Linked DNA regions of Homo sapiens: all the other regions are linked to region 3. The links come from fine-mapping of genetic effects on gene expression. A gene starts in region 3. Each other region holds a variant in brackets. All regions are shown on one strand. Distances are between the middles of the regions.

What was found. PIP is the estimated chance that this variant, and not a neighbour inherited with it, causes the effect.
Region 1: its variant is fine-mapped to the expression of CASC8 in whole blood (TOPMed, PIP 0.95).
Region 2: its variant is fine-mapped to the expression of CASC8 in blood mononuclear cells (TOPMed, PIP above 0.99). The same link has a PIP of 0.9 or more in T cells, monocytes and whole blood.

What each region holds. Positions count from the first base shown.
Region 1 is chr8:127,456,178-127,461,713 of GRCh38, reverse strand. All of the region lies in intron 4 of CASC8 (cancer susceptibility 8), which reads left to right. Among named protein-coding and RNA genes, the nearest start is that of CASC8, 23 kb to the left of the region's middle. The variant T/G (reference allele first, on the strand shown) is at 3,351.
Region 2 is chr8:127,431,926-127,437,461 of GRCh38, reverse strand. All of the region lies in intron 4 of CASC8 (cancer susceptibility 8), which reads left to right. Among named protein-coding and RNA genes, the nearest start is that of POU5F1B, 19 kb to the right of the region's middle. RefSeq lists an enhancer at 4,332-5,246. The variant C/G (reference allele first, on the strand shown) is at 2,160.
Region 3 is chr8:127,478,904-127,484,439 of GRCh38, reverse strand. It overlaps CASC8 (cancer susceptibility 8), which reads left to right and starts at 2,301. Exons shown (of 6, transcript NR_117100.1): 1 at 2,301-2,806; 2 at 3,369-3,712; 3 at 4,634-4,736; 4 at 5,270-5,357.

The sequences.
Region 1 (5,536 bases), 23 kb after region 3:
AGCATCTGCAGGAGTATAATCAGGGCAGGCAGTCATCTCTGGGTGCACTTAAATTACTGGCTCTCTGTGGATACATCATTCACATCAAATTCTGTGTACAGATCTTTTGATTATATATAAAACAGACTGTCATAACTATTTCTATGGCAAGTTGCTGTTTTATTGATGCAATTATTATTATTATAATAATTATTATTATTTTGAGACTGAGTCTTGCTCTGTTGCCCAAGCTAGAGTGCAGTGGCATGATCTCAGCTCACTGCAACCTCTGCCTCTCAGATTCAAGCGATTCTCCCACCTCAGCCTCCTAAGTAGCTGGGATTACAGGCGCCCACCACCGTGCCTGGCTAACTTTTGTATTTTTAGTAGAGACAAGGTTTCACCATCTTGGCCAGGCTGGTCTCAAACTCCTCACTTCGTGATCCACCTGCCTCGGCCTCCCAAAGTGCTAGGATTACAGGCGTGAGCCACTGTGCCCAGCCTGATGCAATTTTTTTAATGCCTTCTACAAAACTACTTAGGGCAAACTGCTCTCCTGTGAACAAGGCCAAGGCCATGGTGGGAGGGGTTCCACGGCTGTTCCTCTCCCATCCCCACCCCATATACTGAGAGAGCCCTTTCTCCATGCTTTCTTTTTCTGCTTCGCTATCAAACATTCTTCCAGCAGCAATTGAAGGGACAGACAATAGTAAGTTTTTTGGAACTTTTTTCTGAATAATATATATTATATATGCATTTTTCTGGCTATATAAGTCATGCACTTTCTTATATAAGAAAGCTTGGAAAAAATTGAGAAAAATATAAAGAACAAAATATAAATTAATTCTAGTTCCACTGTAGAGAAATAAACAGTGCTGGATTTTTTCATGACAAGCTTTTCTGATGACCTCAATGTCTTACTTTATGCTCTTAATATAATCTAGGACTTCATGTGTTCATGGATACTCAGAAAATCGCTACTCAATTAGCCATAGATAATTATTAGGACAAATACAGGCTTTACCTTTGGTCTTCAAATAATGTTAAGTGGAATGTAATTCATAACCCATGGTAAAACTTCCTAAACCTTTGTTTCTATTACTCTCCTACCTTTCCATACCCAAAATCTATATGATAGCTTCTGGATTCTCCAACCTACCCCAAATTATCCTCACCTCTTTATAAGTCTCCCATAACCCTTTCTTACCCTATTTTAAGCTTCTTTTAAATATAGTAAGGAAGAGTTTCTCTGGCCTTCTTTTTTTCCTCAAATTTTATTTTAGATTCAGGAGGTACATGTGAAGGTTTGTAACTTGGGTATATTGCATGATGCTGAGATTTGGGGTGCAGCTAATTCCACCATCCAGGTACTGAGCATAGTACTCAATAGTTTTTCAACTCTTTCCCCTCTAGCTCCCTCCATCCCCCATCTAGTAGTCCCCAGTTTCTATTGCTGCCATCTTTATGTCCATAAGTATCTGGTCTCCTTTTAAATTTGCTTTCTTCTTTGCTCATTATCTAGAATTTCCATAATAGAGGAGAACCTGAAACCACACCCAATAAGAAAGAATTTTATCTAAAGTTTTACTACCTTTGCATTCCAGTCTTTCTCTACCCATTCTCCTAATCTTGTCTCGTGAAATCATGGCTGCTGAGAATGAGATTTCTTTTGGAGGACAATGAAAAGGATGGGAGGACAGAAGCTACACAGAAGGGAGAAAGGAAAACAGAGCAACTGAAGACAAAAATTACTTTAGAAGGTGTAAGCACATACAAACAGGGCTGAGGTTATATGTTTCACTTTGAATGAATCTCATTTACCGAGATACCAGGAGCATTTTACTTAAGTCTTTGAGAACACGAGTTTTACTGGCTATATCATACTCTGTTGTAGAAATACACTGTAAAGTACTTTCACTATCCTCTTTTATTGGACATTTAGATCTAAATGAATTTTGTGCTAATATGAATATTGTATGATGAATATCTTTGACTATATTTTGTGCATTTTGTTATAGGCATGTATCTTGAAAACGGCAGAGGGAAGATTTTGCTTTGTTACCCATTTTGATAGGCCTTGCCTTTGGCCAGACATGTTACTGATGTTTTGGTATTGAACTGATGTATGTCTTCATTTATTTGTTTTTATTTATTTTTATTTTTTTGAATTTTTAAACTGTTTACTTGAACTATAGCAAATACGCAGAAAAGTGAACAAATCTTAAGTGAACAAGTCACTAAATTATGACAAACTGACCACAACCCAGGTCAAAGAAACAGAACATTGCTACCACTCTGGGAGCGCCTATATCACCCCATATCCAGCCCCTCCCCTCTCCCCAAAGGTAGCCAAGTTTGCTTGTCTTTTTTTTTTTTTTTGGATTCCATATAAATCAAATCATAACTTAGGCATTTTCAAGTGTCTAGTTTCTTTTGTTCTACATTATATCTTTGAGATTCATCCATACTGTTATATATAGTAGTAGTTTGTTTTCATTATTATGTAGCATTCCATTGTACAAATATACCAAAACTTGTTTATCCATCTACTATTGTTGAACTAGAACTATTGTTGTTACTGGATTGGGGCTATCATAACTAATACTGCTATAAACTTTTCTGTACATGTCTTTTGGTCCACATGTGCACACATTTCTGAGGATATATACCTAGAACTGCTGGGTCATAGTATTATATTAAATTTCAGTAGATAATACCAAATAGTTTTCTAAAATACTTGTGCCAGTTTACACTTTGACCAGAAGTATGACAGTTTTCATTGTTCCACATTCTGGCCCATACTTGGAATTTCTAATCTTTCACGTCTAAGTCAATTTTTGGAATGTGTAATAGTGTTTTTATTTTTCATCCCCAATTACTAATGAAATTCTCAATGAAACCCCTTTTCAAATATTATTTGGACATTTGGATGAATGTTCTCATTTATGGGCCGCATTTAAGAATGAAGCAAACACAAAATCCTCTGGTATTTTTCGGTGGAGGGGCCCTTAAAAATGGGATGATCTTTTATTCTCTATTCTCTGTGACAATATGGGGATATAAGTCACTCTATTCCTTCAAGCTACAGACAAAATGACAGTAGAAAGGAAGAAAACGGAGCCTTGCAAAAGATACATAACAAATTTTCACCACTTGGCAATCCACACTGAGCCTAGAACTTCCTCCGTAATTTGTAAAACCACATGAATTTCAGGAGAGACTACTCTATTTTTGAGTCATTGGTACTTAACAAATAAAGATATGGTGTTGTAAGAGTTCAATAAGCTTTACAATCTTTTAAATGCTCTTCACTTAGAAGGAAAGATGTGTTGAAACTAGTCGGTGGGTTGCAGAAGAGGAGAAGAGAAAGG[T/G]GGAGCCAGCGGAAGAGGATGTGGGTTTTTGCCACCCTGAAATTCAGCTGAGATCTGCAAAAAACTCAAGCAGGAAAATTGAAGTTAGGGGGTAATCTTTGAAAGAAACAAACAACCTGGGGTCCTTCAAAATTTAAATGTACTCAAGCAGACAAATGGGATAAATCAGGAGAGCAAATGCTGGTCCAATGTCCTAGAGCTTTAAAAAAATCATGTGGAAGAGCATCTCCATTCCTCCCCCACCCCCAACTCCTTTTCATTCATAATTTCTTCATTTATTTATTCAACATGTAATTATTGAAGGGGGCTTTGTTCCAGGCTCTATTTTAGGAGCTGAGATTCCGCCATGAACATATCTGAGAAGGTTCCTCTTCTTGAGGAGCTTTTATTACGATAGAGAAGACAGGTAAATCAGTAAATAAATAAAATCTTTCCAGCAGTTAAAAGTGGATAAACATAATGAAACAGAGTAATGGGCTGAGTGTAGAGTTAGCTAGGGAATAAGGCCTGAGAAGGGGACATCTGGGCTGAGAGGCTGCATGATAGAGCCAACCATTGGAAGACCTGAGTAGAAATAGAATTTCTGGCTGAGAGAAAAAGAAGAGAAAATGTTCCGAGAGGGTGTTTTAGTTGTCTATTGTTGTATAATATGTTACTCCAAAATTGCATGGTTTAAAGCAATATTTTTTATCTCACAGTTTCTATGGGTCAGGAATCTGGGCCTGGCTTAGCTGAGTCTTCTGTCTCAGGGTCTCTCACAAGCTGTCATTAAAGTGTTGGCCAGGGATGTAGTCCTGTTATGGTTGGACTGGGGATAGAAGAGCTTCCAAGCTCACTCACATGATTGATGGCACAATTCAGTTTCTCCCAAGCTGTTAGACTGAGGGCTTCACTTCCTTGCTGGCTGTTGGCTGGAGGCCACTCTTAGTTCCTAGCAAGTAAACCTTCTCACAGGGCAGCTCACAACATGGAAACTTGCTTCATCTGAGTGAGAAAGTGAGAAGGAGAGAGAGAGAGAGAGAGAGAGAGCCAATAAGATGGAAGTTACAGTCTTTTGCAACCTAATCGTGGATGTGACATCCCATCACCTTTGCCATATTCTGTTCTTTAAAGGCAAAGCACTAGGTCCAGCCTACACAAAGGATGTGAATATGGAGAGGTGGGAATCACTGTGGGTGGGGTGGCCCTCTTAGGAGCCTGAATGCCAAAGAGAGGGGAAGCCTGGAATATCAAAGGCACAGGCAGAAGGTCAGAGAGGCTTGTAGATAAGGGGATAGTGGTGCAAGATCTGGTCAAAGAGAAAAATGGGGGCCAGATCATGTAAGGCCTGATTGGCCAAGGTAAGACATGATAGAAAGTTACTGGTAGGTTTTGGGAAAAGAAGTAAATACATTTGGTTCAAATTCTCAACAGATCGTTCAGACTGTCACATGCATATAGCAAGTAGGAGGGCCAGGGTAAGGAGGGGAAAGAAGCCAGTTAGAGGCTGCTCTGGCTGTTCATTTCAAGGTGGTGGTGGTTTGTCTCATGGTGGTGACCATAAAAAGAGAGTGACAGTGGCCGGGCGCAGTGGCTCAAGCCTGTAATCCCAGCACTTTGGGAGGCCAAGGCGGGTGGATCAGGAGGTCAGGAGATCAAAACCATCGTGGCTAATACGGTGAAACCCCATCTCTACTAAAAATACAAAAAAAGCTGGGCGTGGTGGTGGGTGCCTGTAGTCCTAGCTACTCGGGAGGCCGAGGCAGGAGAATGGCGTGAACCCGGGAGGCGGAGCTTGCAGTGAGCCGAGATCGCGCCACTCCACTCCAGCCTAGGTGACAGAGCAAGACTCCGTCTCAAAAAAAAAAAAAAAAAAAAAAAAAAAAGGAGTGACAGAGTGGGATCTATTTTGGAGGAAGAGTTAGCAGAGTTTGCTGGTGGCTTAGATGAGGGTAATGAAGGAAAGCAAAATCAGCTGGTCATTATTTTGATTGCTTTTTATTGTATCTTGTGTTTATTGAAAACCTGAAAGCATGTGAGAGCTAGAAGAATCCTTGGGAATTATTTAATACAGTTTCCTTGTCATACTGATGGGGAAGCTGCAAGCCACTTCATCTTTCTAGTCCTCAGCTTCCAGTTTTGTAATAGGAGAAGCTGGGCTAGATTTTCTGTGAGCATTAAGGAATACTCTCTGAACAAAACCAAAG
Region 2 (5,536 bases), 47 kb after region 3:
CGCATGTCTGTGTGAAGAGACCACCAAACAGGCTTTGTGTGAGCAACATGGCTGTTTATTTCACCTGGGTGCAGGCAGGCTGAGTCCGAAAAGAGAGTCAGCGAAGGGAGATAAGGTTGGGGCCGTTTTATAGGATTTGGGTAGGTAAAGAAAATTACAGTCAAAGGGGGTTTGTTCTCTGGCGGGCAGGAGTGGGGGTCACAAGGTGCTCAGTGGGGGTGGTTTTTGAGCCAGGATGAGCCAGGAAAAGGACTTTCACAAGGTAATGTCATCACTTAAGGCAAGGACCGGCCATTTTCACTTCTTTTGTGGTGGAATGTCATCAGTTAAGGTGGGGCAGGGCATATTCACTTCTTTCGTGATTCTTCAGTTACTTCAGGCCATCTGGGCGTATATGTGCAAGTCACAGGGGATGGGATGGCTTGGCTTGGGCTCAGAGGCCTGACATTCCTGCCTTCTTATATTAATAAGAAAAATAAAACAAAATGGTGTTGAAGTGTTGGGGTGGCTAAAATTTTTGGGGGGTGATATGGACAGAGAATGGGCGATGTTTCTCAGGGCTGCTTCAAGCAGGATTAGGGGCAGCGTGGGAACCTAGAGTGGGAGAGACTAAGCTGAAGGGAGGTCTTGTGGTAAGGGGTGATATTGTGGGGATGTTAGAAGAAACGTTTGTCGTATAGAATGATTGGTGATGGCCTGAATACGGTTTTGGATGAATTGAGAAACTAAATGGAATAACAGAAGGAGAAAAACAGGTATAAAAGGTCTAAGAATTGGGACAACTCAGGATATCCGATTAGAGAGTGCCTAAGGAGATTCAGCATAGTCCTGCCAGCAAAGATTATTTATTTACTTCAAGAGTTAAGAGTGGCAGTTTGGGGATAGCACCAGGAGATATCAGCTGTGATGGCTTGGAAAAACAGTGTAAACCGGCAGTGTAAACAAGAGCAGGGCATGTATGAGTAGTTGAGAACAGTGAATAGGAGTATGACTAGACAGAAGATAGTAGGGATGACAAGTTTTTTTGGGGGCACAGTCTAAGTTGGTCTGGTGTCTGGAATGAGACTGGGGCCTAATAAAAAGGAGCGTCTATACAGGAGCTTAAATGGGCTGTACCCTGTAGCATTCCGAGGACAGGCCAGAATTCTGAGAAGGGAAAGTGGTAAAAGTATTGTCCAGTCCTTTTTGGTGGCTGAGCTTGGTGAGGTGTGTTTTTAAAAGACCTTTAGTCCATTCTACTTTTCTTGAAGACGGAGGACCGTAAGAGATATAAAGGTTTCACTGAATACTAAGAGCCTGAAAAACTGCTTGGCTGATTTGACTAATAAAGGCTCATCTGTTATCACACTGTATTGAGGTGGGAAGGCTTAACCGAGGAATTATGTCTGACAGAACGGAAGAAATGACTGCGGTGGCCTTCTCAGACCCTGTAGGAAAGGACTTTACCTATCCAGTGAAAGTATCTACCTAGACTAAGAGGTATTTTAGTTATCTGACTCAGGGCATGTTGAGTAAAGCTAATTTGCCAGTCCTGGGTGGGGCAAATCCTCGAGCTTGATGTGTAGGGAAGGGAGGGGGCCTGAATAATCCCTAAGGAGTAGTAGAATAGCAGATGGAACACTGAGAAGTTATTTCCTTGAGGATAGATTTCCACGATGGAAAGGAAATGAGAGGTTCTAAGAGGCAGGCTAGTGGCTTGTACTATAGCATAGCCTGCCTTTGCTGGTGTGTGGCGATTAGGCCTGGTGGAACCGCCATCAATAAATCAAGCGTGATCAGGGTGAGGAACAGGAAAGAAGGAAATTTGGGGAAATGGGGTGAATGTCAGGTGGATCAGAGAGATACTGTCATGGGGGTCAGGTGTGGTATCAGGAATAATGTGGGAGGCCGGACTGAAGTCTGGGCCAGGAACAACGGTAATTGTGGGAGACTCAACAAAGAGTGAGTACAGCTGAAGGAGCCGGGAAGCAGAAAGTATATGCGTCAGGTATGAGGAAGAAAATAGATTTTGGAAGTTATGAGAACTGTAGAGAGTGAGTTGAGCATAGTTTGTGATTTTGAGGGCCTCTAAAAGTATTAAAGCAGCGGCAGCCGCTGCATGAAGATATGAGGGCTAGGCTAAAACAGTAAGGTCAAGTTGTTTGGACAGAAAGGCTATA[C/G]GGTGTGGTCCTGGTTGTTGTGTAAGAATTCTGACCACGTTAACCATGCCTAGGAAGGAAAGGAGTTGTTGTTTTGTAGAAGGTGCTTGGGTTTGAGAGATCAGTCGGACACGATTGGCAGGGAGAGCACATGTGTTTTTATGAGAATTATGCCGAGATAGGTAACAGATGAGGATAAAATTTGGGCTTGACTGAAGTAATGGGGGCTGTCTGTGAAGTCTTGCAGCAGTACAGCCTAGGTAATTTGCTGAGCCTAATGGGTCTCAGGGTCAGTCTAAGTGAAAGCAAAGAGAGGCTGGGACGAGGGGTGCAGGGGAATAGTGAAAAAAGCATCTTTAAGATCAAGCACGGAATAGTGAGTTGTGGAGGAAGGTATTGAGGACAAAAGAGGGTACGGGTTGGGCACCACAGGGGGGATAGGCAAAACAATTTGGTTGATAAGGCGCAGATCCTGAACTAACTTGTAAGGCTTGTCTGGTTTTAGGACAGGTAAAATGGGGGAATTGTAAGGAGAGTTTATAGGTTTTAAAAGGCCATGCTGTAGCAGGTGAGTGATAACAGGCTTTAATCTTTTTAAAGCGTGCTGCGGGATGGGATATTGGCGTTGAGTGGGGTAAGGGTGATTAGGTTTTAATGAGATGGTAAGGGGTCACCAAGGAGGGAGTAGAGGTATCTTATACTTGTGGGTTAGGGTCGGGGGATACAAGAGGAGGACGCAAGGAGGCTTTGGATTGGGAAGAAGGGCGGCAATGAGATATAGCTGTAGTCCAGGAATAGTCAGGGAAGCAGATAATTTAGTTAAAGTGTCTCAGCCTAATAAGGGAACTGGGCAGGTGGGGATAACTAAAAAGGAGTGCTTAAAAGAGTATTGTCTAAGTTGGCACCAGAGTTGGGGAGTTTTAAGAGGTTTAGAAGCCTGGCCGTCAATACCCACAACAGTTATGGAGGCAAGGGAAACAGGCCCTTGAAAAGAAGGTAATGTGGAGTGGGTAGCCTCCATATTGATTAAGAAGGGGACGGGCTTACCTTCCACTGTGAGAGTAACCCAAAGCTTGGCGTCCGTGATGGTCTAGGGGGCTTCCGAGGCAATCAGGCAGTGTCAGTCTTCAGCTGCTAAGCCGAGAAGATCTGGGAAGGAGTCAGTCAGAGAGCCTTGGACCAGCGTTCTAGGGGCTCTGGGAGTGGCTGCCAGGTGAGTTGAACAGTCCAATTTTCAGTGGGGTCCCACACAGATGGGACACGGCTTAGGAGGAATCCCAGGCTGCGGGCATTCCTTGGCCCAGTGGCCAGATTTCCGGCACATGTAGCAAGCTCCTGGGGGAGGAGGTTCTGGAGGAACGCCTGGCCGCTGCGGTTCAGGCGTTTGGAAGTTCTTGTGTGCTGCAGATGTGGCTGGGGTTTGTCTCACAGTGGAGGCAAGTAATTGCAACTTTTTTCTATTATTGTACACCTTGAAGGCGAGGTTAATTAAATCCTGTCATGGGGTTTGAGGGCCGGAATTTAATTTTTGGAGTTTTATTTAATGTCGGGAGCAGAATGGGTAATAAAGTGCATTTTGAGAATAAGACGGCCTTTTGACCTTTTAGGGTCTAGGGCTGTAAAGTATCTCAGTATTGCTGCTAAACAAGTCATGAACTGGGCTGGATTTTTATATTTGATGAAAAAGAGCCTAAACGCTATCTGATTTGGGATAAAGAAAAAGGAGCATTAACCTTGACTATGCCTTTAGCTCCAGCCACCTTTCTAAGAGTAAATTGCTGGGCAGGTGAGGGAGGGCTAGTCACGGAAAGAAACTGTAAGCCGGACCAGGTGTGAGGAGCGGAGGCGATAAAAAGATTATAGGGTGGAGGAGCGGAGGCTGAGGAAGAATTGGGACCTAGCTCGGCCTGGCGAGGAGGTGAGAGGTCAGATGGGTCTGTAGAAAAGGAAGATTAGAAAGACTCAGCGATGCTTGGGGTTGGGACTGAGGGGACAGGCGGGAGGGAAAGAAGGAAGATTTGGGACGAGTTGTACTGGGCACAGAGACTAGGAAGGGACTGATGTGTAAAAGAATGCCTGGACGTCAGGCGCCTCGGACTGTTTGCCTATTTTACAACAAGAATTATTTAGATCTTGCAGGATGGAAAAATTCAAAGTGCCATTTTCTGGCTATTTGGAACTACTGTCGAGTTTGTATTGGGGTCAAGTGGCATTGCAGAAGAAAATAAGGCATTTAGGTTTTAGGTCAGGTGTGAGTTGAAGAGGTTTTAAGTTTTTGAGAACACAGGCCAAGGGAGTAGAAGGAGGAATGGAGGGTGGAAGGTTGCCTATACTGAAGGAAGCAAGCCTAGAGAAAAGAGAGAGTAGAGAAATGGAGGGAAGGGGTTCGGGGGTTCTTACCTTCCAGAAAAGGGGTGGGGTGCAGAGATAAGAGGTTGGGGTGTGGAAATAAGGGATTGGGGCACAGAGATATAAGAGGTTGGGGCACGGAAATAAGGGATTGGGGTGCAGAGATACGAGGTTGGGGCATGGAAATAAGGGATTGGGACACAGAGATAAGAGGTCGGGGTGCGGAAATAAGCAACTGGGGGGTTCTTGCCCCCCAGGAAAGCAGGACTTGCCGCTAAGGGTGAAGGAGAAGGGGTTGAGGGGTACTTGCCCCTGCCCCAGAAAAGCAGAGAAGGGGTTGGGGTACTTGCCCCTTCCCCAGAAAAGCGGGACTTGCCGCTAAGGGTGAAGGACCAAGGCAGGCGTCCCTGCGTGTGGTCTGACACCCTTGAAACGTGAGTGTATAATCAGAGAGGCGTCCCTGCAAGGATTAAACACCAAGGGAAGGCTGCCTTCCCAGTCCGTGACCGGAGCCGGAGTTTTGGGTCCACGGATAAAACGTGTCTCCTTTGTCGCTACCAGAAAATGAAAGGAATTGAAATTAAGGGAGACATTGAAGTGTGGCACCAAGATTGAAAGGAGAAAGAGGTTGAGGGATAGTGAGGGAGGTTGGAGAAGAGAGTAAAAAGAGGCTGCTTACCGGATTTGAAATTGGTGAGATGTTTCTTGGGCTGGTTGGTCTGAGGACCTGAGGTCGTAGGTGGATGTTTCTCATGGAGCAAAGAACAGGAGGACAGGGGATTGATCTCCCAAAGGAGGTCCCCCGAGCCGAGCCACAGCACCAAATTTCATGCGCGTCCGTGTGAAGAGACCACCAAACAGGCTTTGTGTGAGCAACATGGCTGTTTATTTCACCTGGGTGCAGGCGGGCTGAGTCCAAAAAGAGAGTCAGCGAAGGGAGATAAGGGTGGGGCCGTTTTATAGGATTTGGGTAGGTAAAGGAAAATTACAGTCAAAGGGGGTTTGTTCTCTGGCGGGCAGGAGTGGGGGTCGCAAGGTGCTCAGTGGGG
Region 3 (5,536 bases):
ACTAAGGAAGAGTCCCACACCACACGCACACAATATAATGACAAAGCCCTCCCCACCAGCACTACTACTACTGCCAAGAACTGTCCTCTAAACAGTGTGACCCAGCTTTGTGGAGAGTTGGCCAGATGGGCGTCACCTGAGCTCAAGGACAATCTCCTCTGCTCTGGTCTTGCCTCATGCCCAAGCTGGATTTGATCCCAGGTCTCTTGACTTCCCTTCTTTCCTCCCTACTTATTCCCATGCTGGATTTGAGCCCAGGTCTCTTGACTTTCTTTCTTTCCTTCCTTTCTTCCTTCCTTCCTTCCTTCATTCCTTCCTTCCTTCCTCCCTCCCTCCCTCCCTCCCTCCCTTCTTTCCTTCCTTCCTTCTTTTCTTCCTCTAATGTCTATTGAGCACATATTAAATGCCAGCTTCCTTCTAGGATTTGGAGTTTTTCAATGAAAAAAAAAGTGGACTCCTGCTTTTGTGATATTTGAATTCTAGTGAGTGGACACAGACAGACTACAAAGCATAAATGTTATAAAGTGGTGAGGGGTGGTTGCTATAGACAAAAAAGTATAAGGGAGTGTAGGGGATATCAGGAGTTCTGGGGGATGATGGGATTGCAATTTCAAATGCAGAGGTTAAGATAGACCTCATTGAAAAGGTGACATTAGAGCAAAGGCTTGATGTCTATGTGAAGAGCATTCTGGACACATGGAGCAGCTGGTGCAGAGGACTGAAAGTGGAACATGGGTTGATTGTGGCTTAGCAATGAGGGGCAGTGCAGACAGAGGTGCAAAGAGGCATCAGGGGGGCCTAGTCATGAGAGGCTCTGCAGGTCATGGTTGGAATTAGATCTGGTGCTGTCCCTCTATGTTGTGGTCAGCAAGATGATTTCACCAGCAGCTTATTCAATATGCTTTCTAAGAAAATCATCATTTAACCAGTTAGTGTGGATTCTCCTGGCCAAATCCTAGTGTGCAAATATGCTGGAAACATTCAATCTTGTTTCCAGCAAGGCTTGGGATAATTTAGAAACTGTTCAATCAACTCAGTAAATATGAATTAAACATTTACAGTTGTATTAAATATTCGAAAGATAGGAACCAAAACAGTCTATCAAGTAATTGTACATATTTGTGCATTTACAAAATGCATATTCATGAGAGCTATGTAAATATATATTTAGTCATTTCCTCTTTCATGTGAAGTGCTATGGCTGAACTACAGATGGTAACTTTCTTGTGTCTGATTATGAAAATGGCACAGTAAAGCATTCTGACATTGTCCTTAGAAAAAGATCATTGTTTGGCCATTACCATGAGTTCAGTGTTCTTGGAACTAGGGAGAAGAAAGTTCTAGAACATGTCTGTTTTTGTGGCAGGCATCTAGGGAGGAAAGGCAGTTATTTCTAAGATACGTGGCTCTCATACTTTTTCCACCAAGGGTCACAAAAAGGAGGAGGTTTATGTGTAGGACATGCTGAAGTCCTGTGGGCTCTGTATTCCAGCCACAGTGCCACCCTTTCTTTCTCTGTCAGGAAAGCATAGTGGGAGGGTAGGGAGTGAGCATAATGACATTTTGGGTTAATATTTAATTCATTCTAATTTATTCAAAAACGTGTCTAACTTCTCATGATATCTATTAATACTAACATGACTGGCAACCCCTCACAACTGCCTCTGACAACTCTTGTGGGTCCTTCTGCCACATCTAAGGACTCTCTGGATAAGGAGATGGTGAGAGAACACACATTCTAATTTTGTCTTTGTGTGAAGGTCTTATGTGAAAATCTTTCTGGGAATTAGAGTTTTCTAAAGGAATCTCTATTTCCTAAGGTCCTGATACTCTTACTAGCATTTGCCAGTTAATTCTGTGAGACCCAAATGTGTGCAGGGCCTGGACACTTTATCTCATACTAGGTCTCTTCCTTAACCATCCACTATTCCCCAAATATTTACACAGGTGGACTGCGTAGTTAGACTGATATTTGTGTCAGCCTTGAAAACTCAGGATGACTCTCGAAGCCGACTGCTCATGAAGTATCGTTGCTTGGATCTCCTCTTTTGGAGACTAAGGGAGCTTGACTGTGTGCAAGTTAGCAATAAGGACTGACTACTGGATTAGGTGGACCACGTGAATATCATCTTGTGGTGGCCTTTTGGGATCTTCTGATCTCACTCAGAGTAAAAGCCAAAGTCCTCACTATGACCTAGAAAACGCTTTGTGATCTGTGCCCCCAGGTCTATGACTTCACCTCTAACTAATCCCCCTCACTTGCTTAACCTCCTTCCTCAATGGCCTCTCTGCTAGCTCCTTGAACCACCCCAGGCCCTTTGCACCTGCTATTCCCTCTCCTCAGCATGCTCTGCCCCAGACAATTGCAATGCTAACTTCTTACTTCCTTCAGGTTTCACTCAGAAATGACTTTCTCAGTGGGGTCTCCCATGACCATTTTATTTAAGATTTCAACTACTTTGCCAGTATTTCACTTCTCCTCCCTTGATCTTTTCTTCCAAGCACTCACTGCCCTCTTGCACACTGTATCTTTTACTTATTTATCTTGTTCAGTTTCTGCCTGCCTCACCTGCCTCACCACAGTGTACATTTCACGAGGGCAGGGATTTTGTCTGTTTTGTTGATTGCTGTAGCCCTGGCATCTTGGGCAGTGCCAGCACCTGTTAGCATTAAATACATATTTACTGAATGAATGAGTGGCTTCATGCTTAAAAGCAAGAAGAGAGACCTTCATAGAGAAGTAGGAAAATGAATTGTTGCACAAATAAAGGGCCATGTAATGAGAGAGAGAGAGCAAGAGAAAGAGGTGAGATGCTGATAGATTTTCCAAAAACATTCCAGTTCCTACTTCCCATCTTTCATGAACCAAGATTTTTACTTCCTATCCATGGGCTATCCCTAAAAATTCCATTTTCTTAGGCTACTGTAATAGGGCTTGTCTTTATTGCTACCAAAAATCTCTAAGCAAAAAAAAAAAAAAATAGAGTCAAACTAGAAGATGCTAATTGTTTTCTCAACATCCAGCATGTCTTTGGAGAATGGGGTTCTCATGTAGCAAACAGTTTTGTGGGTTCTCTTCCGTGTTTCCTTTCTTGGATAACTAGGTCACAGACAGCTGGTGTTTCCCATGTGGCAAAGGGAGCATGCAGAGAAATCCCCGCCTCCTCTCTCTTTGCTTTTCAAGCCCTGCTGAATGCCTCCTAATGATTTCATCTGCTCGGAGGTCTGCTGGCTTTTCCACTCTCGTAGAAGCTGGTGGCGCCGGGGGCTGATGCATGCTCTGACTACTGACTTGAAACATGCTTTGATGAATTAGTGCAACTCGGCCAGCCATTTACTTTAAATTTTACCCTTGATTCTTCCTCTAGCAAACAATTAAGGAGCAGCAGTGGCTTCCTGCAGGGGAGACCAATGCCTTCTGTCCTCAGCGGAAACAGCTTGGCATTCTTCCAATTGATGAATGGCATGGACCAGGAGCACTAGTTATCTTCAGCTTCTGAGCATCCGAATAAATAAACATACAAATGCATAACATAAAATAAATTCAAATTACAAATGAGAAAACCAATCTAGGTTACCGGCAAGTCCTATGACTTGATGTGGAGGCCTGGAAGTGCATCCTTGAATCTTGCAATGCAGTGAGCCAAGGAGCAATGAGAGGCCACATGAATAACCGGGCCAGTGACAAGACACATGTCCTCCTCCTTGCTGGGTGAGTAGCCCAGTCCAACCCCAAAAGCTCCTGAGTAAGAGGAAAATGTCTCTTTAACAGTATTAAGGGATAATTTATTATGTGTATCCTTCCAGGGAAGCACAATGTCAGTAAAGGCCCATTGCATTTGCATTATTTCCAGACAACAGCAGCAGCAGAAAGGGACACTGATTTATTTCAGAGCAAGCACAGGTGAATGTAGTGTCTGTTGGGAATGAGCCAGGGAGCACTTAACCCGTTCTGAGTCTTTCTAATGCTTTAGGGGGAACCATAGGTTTTTGGAATAGTTCTATTGGCTTCTTTGGTCAAATTCAGTGTCCCTGAGCCTGTGCTTCTCAATCGCTTGGTAATAAAAGCTCTTACAGGGTGGAGGTCAGCGAAAAAAATATGTTTAAAAACAGAAAATCTGGTTTTATGCCGTGGCCACGTTAATTTCTTTCCGTGTGACCTGGGCAAATAATTTAATCCTTTTACGACTCAGTTATCTCTTTTGAAAAATGAGTGTAATAATGCTCCCTGCAGGATTTTAATGAAAATCAACTAAGCAAATGTATTAATGAGTGACATATAATGAATTGTATAAATGACATTGTTTTGGTGTGACATCAATTTGGGATTCCTGGGACACAAACAGAAGTTTAGGTATTATCTTCAGGTATGGTGTCTTGGCTAGCTTAGCTAGCAGAGAGCTTTTTTCTCAGAGGAATCATTCAGTGGGAGGTAAAACAGTCACTCTTTGAATTCTGGAATTAGAGAGTTATGAAATTCAAAAGGTCATGGTAGAAAGTGTCTTGGAGACATCTCTTCCGAGCTTCTGTTTTGGCAGAGGGAAAAACTGAAGCTTAGGGAAGCAAAGTAAACTGTAAACATCTCGGAGGGTGAGGTCAATCTTAATTATCTTTGGTTGTTGTTTCTTATCAGTATACACCAGAATGCCCCGCATGCAGCGAATGCTCAAAAAGTGTTGGTGGAAGTGACAGAATTCCATCACCATTAAACACAACCAGTGTTGCGGTTGACAATGGTAGGTTGGAGTATTTTCTCTTCTGATCCAGATTAGATCAGAATTTGATACTATTTTAATATTAAGCCTTGAAAAGAATGTGTTTACTGGTCAACTGAGGCATCTTGGAAAGGGACATGACCCCTATAGAGCCAGAAACATCCTGGTAAATCCTCTAGTTTCAACTTCTGACAGAAAGTCCTTGAAGTCTTAAAGAACAATTCCTTTTATTAAACCTTCATACAATTTTAACTTACACAGTAGCACACAATTACAAAATGTTACCCAATACATTACCTTATTTAATTCTCCTAATGATCTGGTGAAGTAGGCATTATTATTTCCATTTCTCAGAGTAAGAAATTGAGGCTCTGAGAGTCTGAGTGATGACCCAAGGATGTATAGGCACCGTCAGGACTGGAACTTGAACCCAGAACTCTTGATTTAAGTGTATTTCATTAACACTACCTTGTAAAGTACCAAGTAGATATCCCTTGCTCCTGTTTCTTCCTTCCTCCTTTTTCTCTCCCCTTCTCTCCCTTGTTCCTCTCTAGGCACTGAAGCAGGTGAAAAATCCGTACAGCAGCTTCTGTCTTTGAAGAGTTTGCAGCCTCTTGAAGAGGGTTTAGAGGTTAAAAAAAGGTAATTCTAAATGCAGAGGATCTTTATTACGCACTAACCCTGATTGAACACAGCCCAAAAGGGTTAACTGACCTGCCTGGGAGATGGGAAAGAGAGATACACCACAGTCCAAGATACAGTTGCTGCTGGAAAAAGAAATCGCTGAAATCCCAAAACACCCCTTTCAAAATATCTAGGCT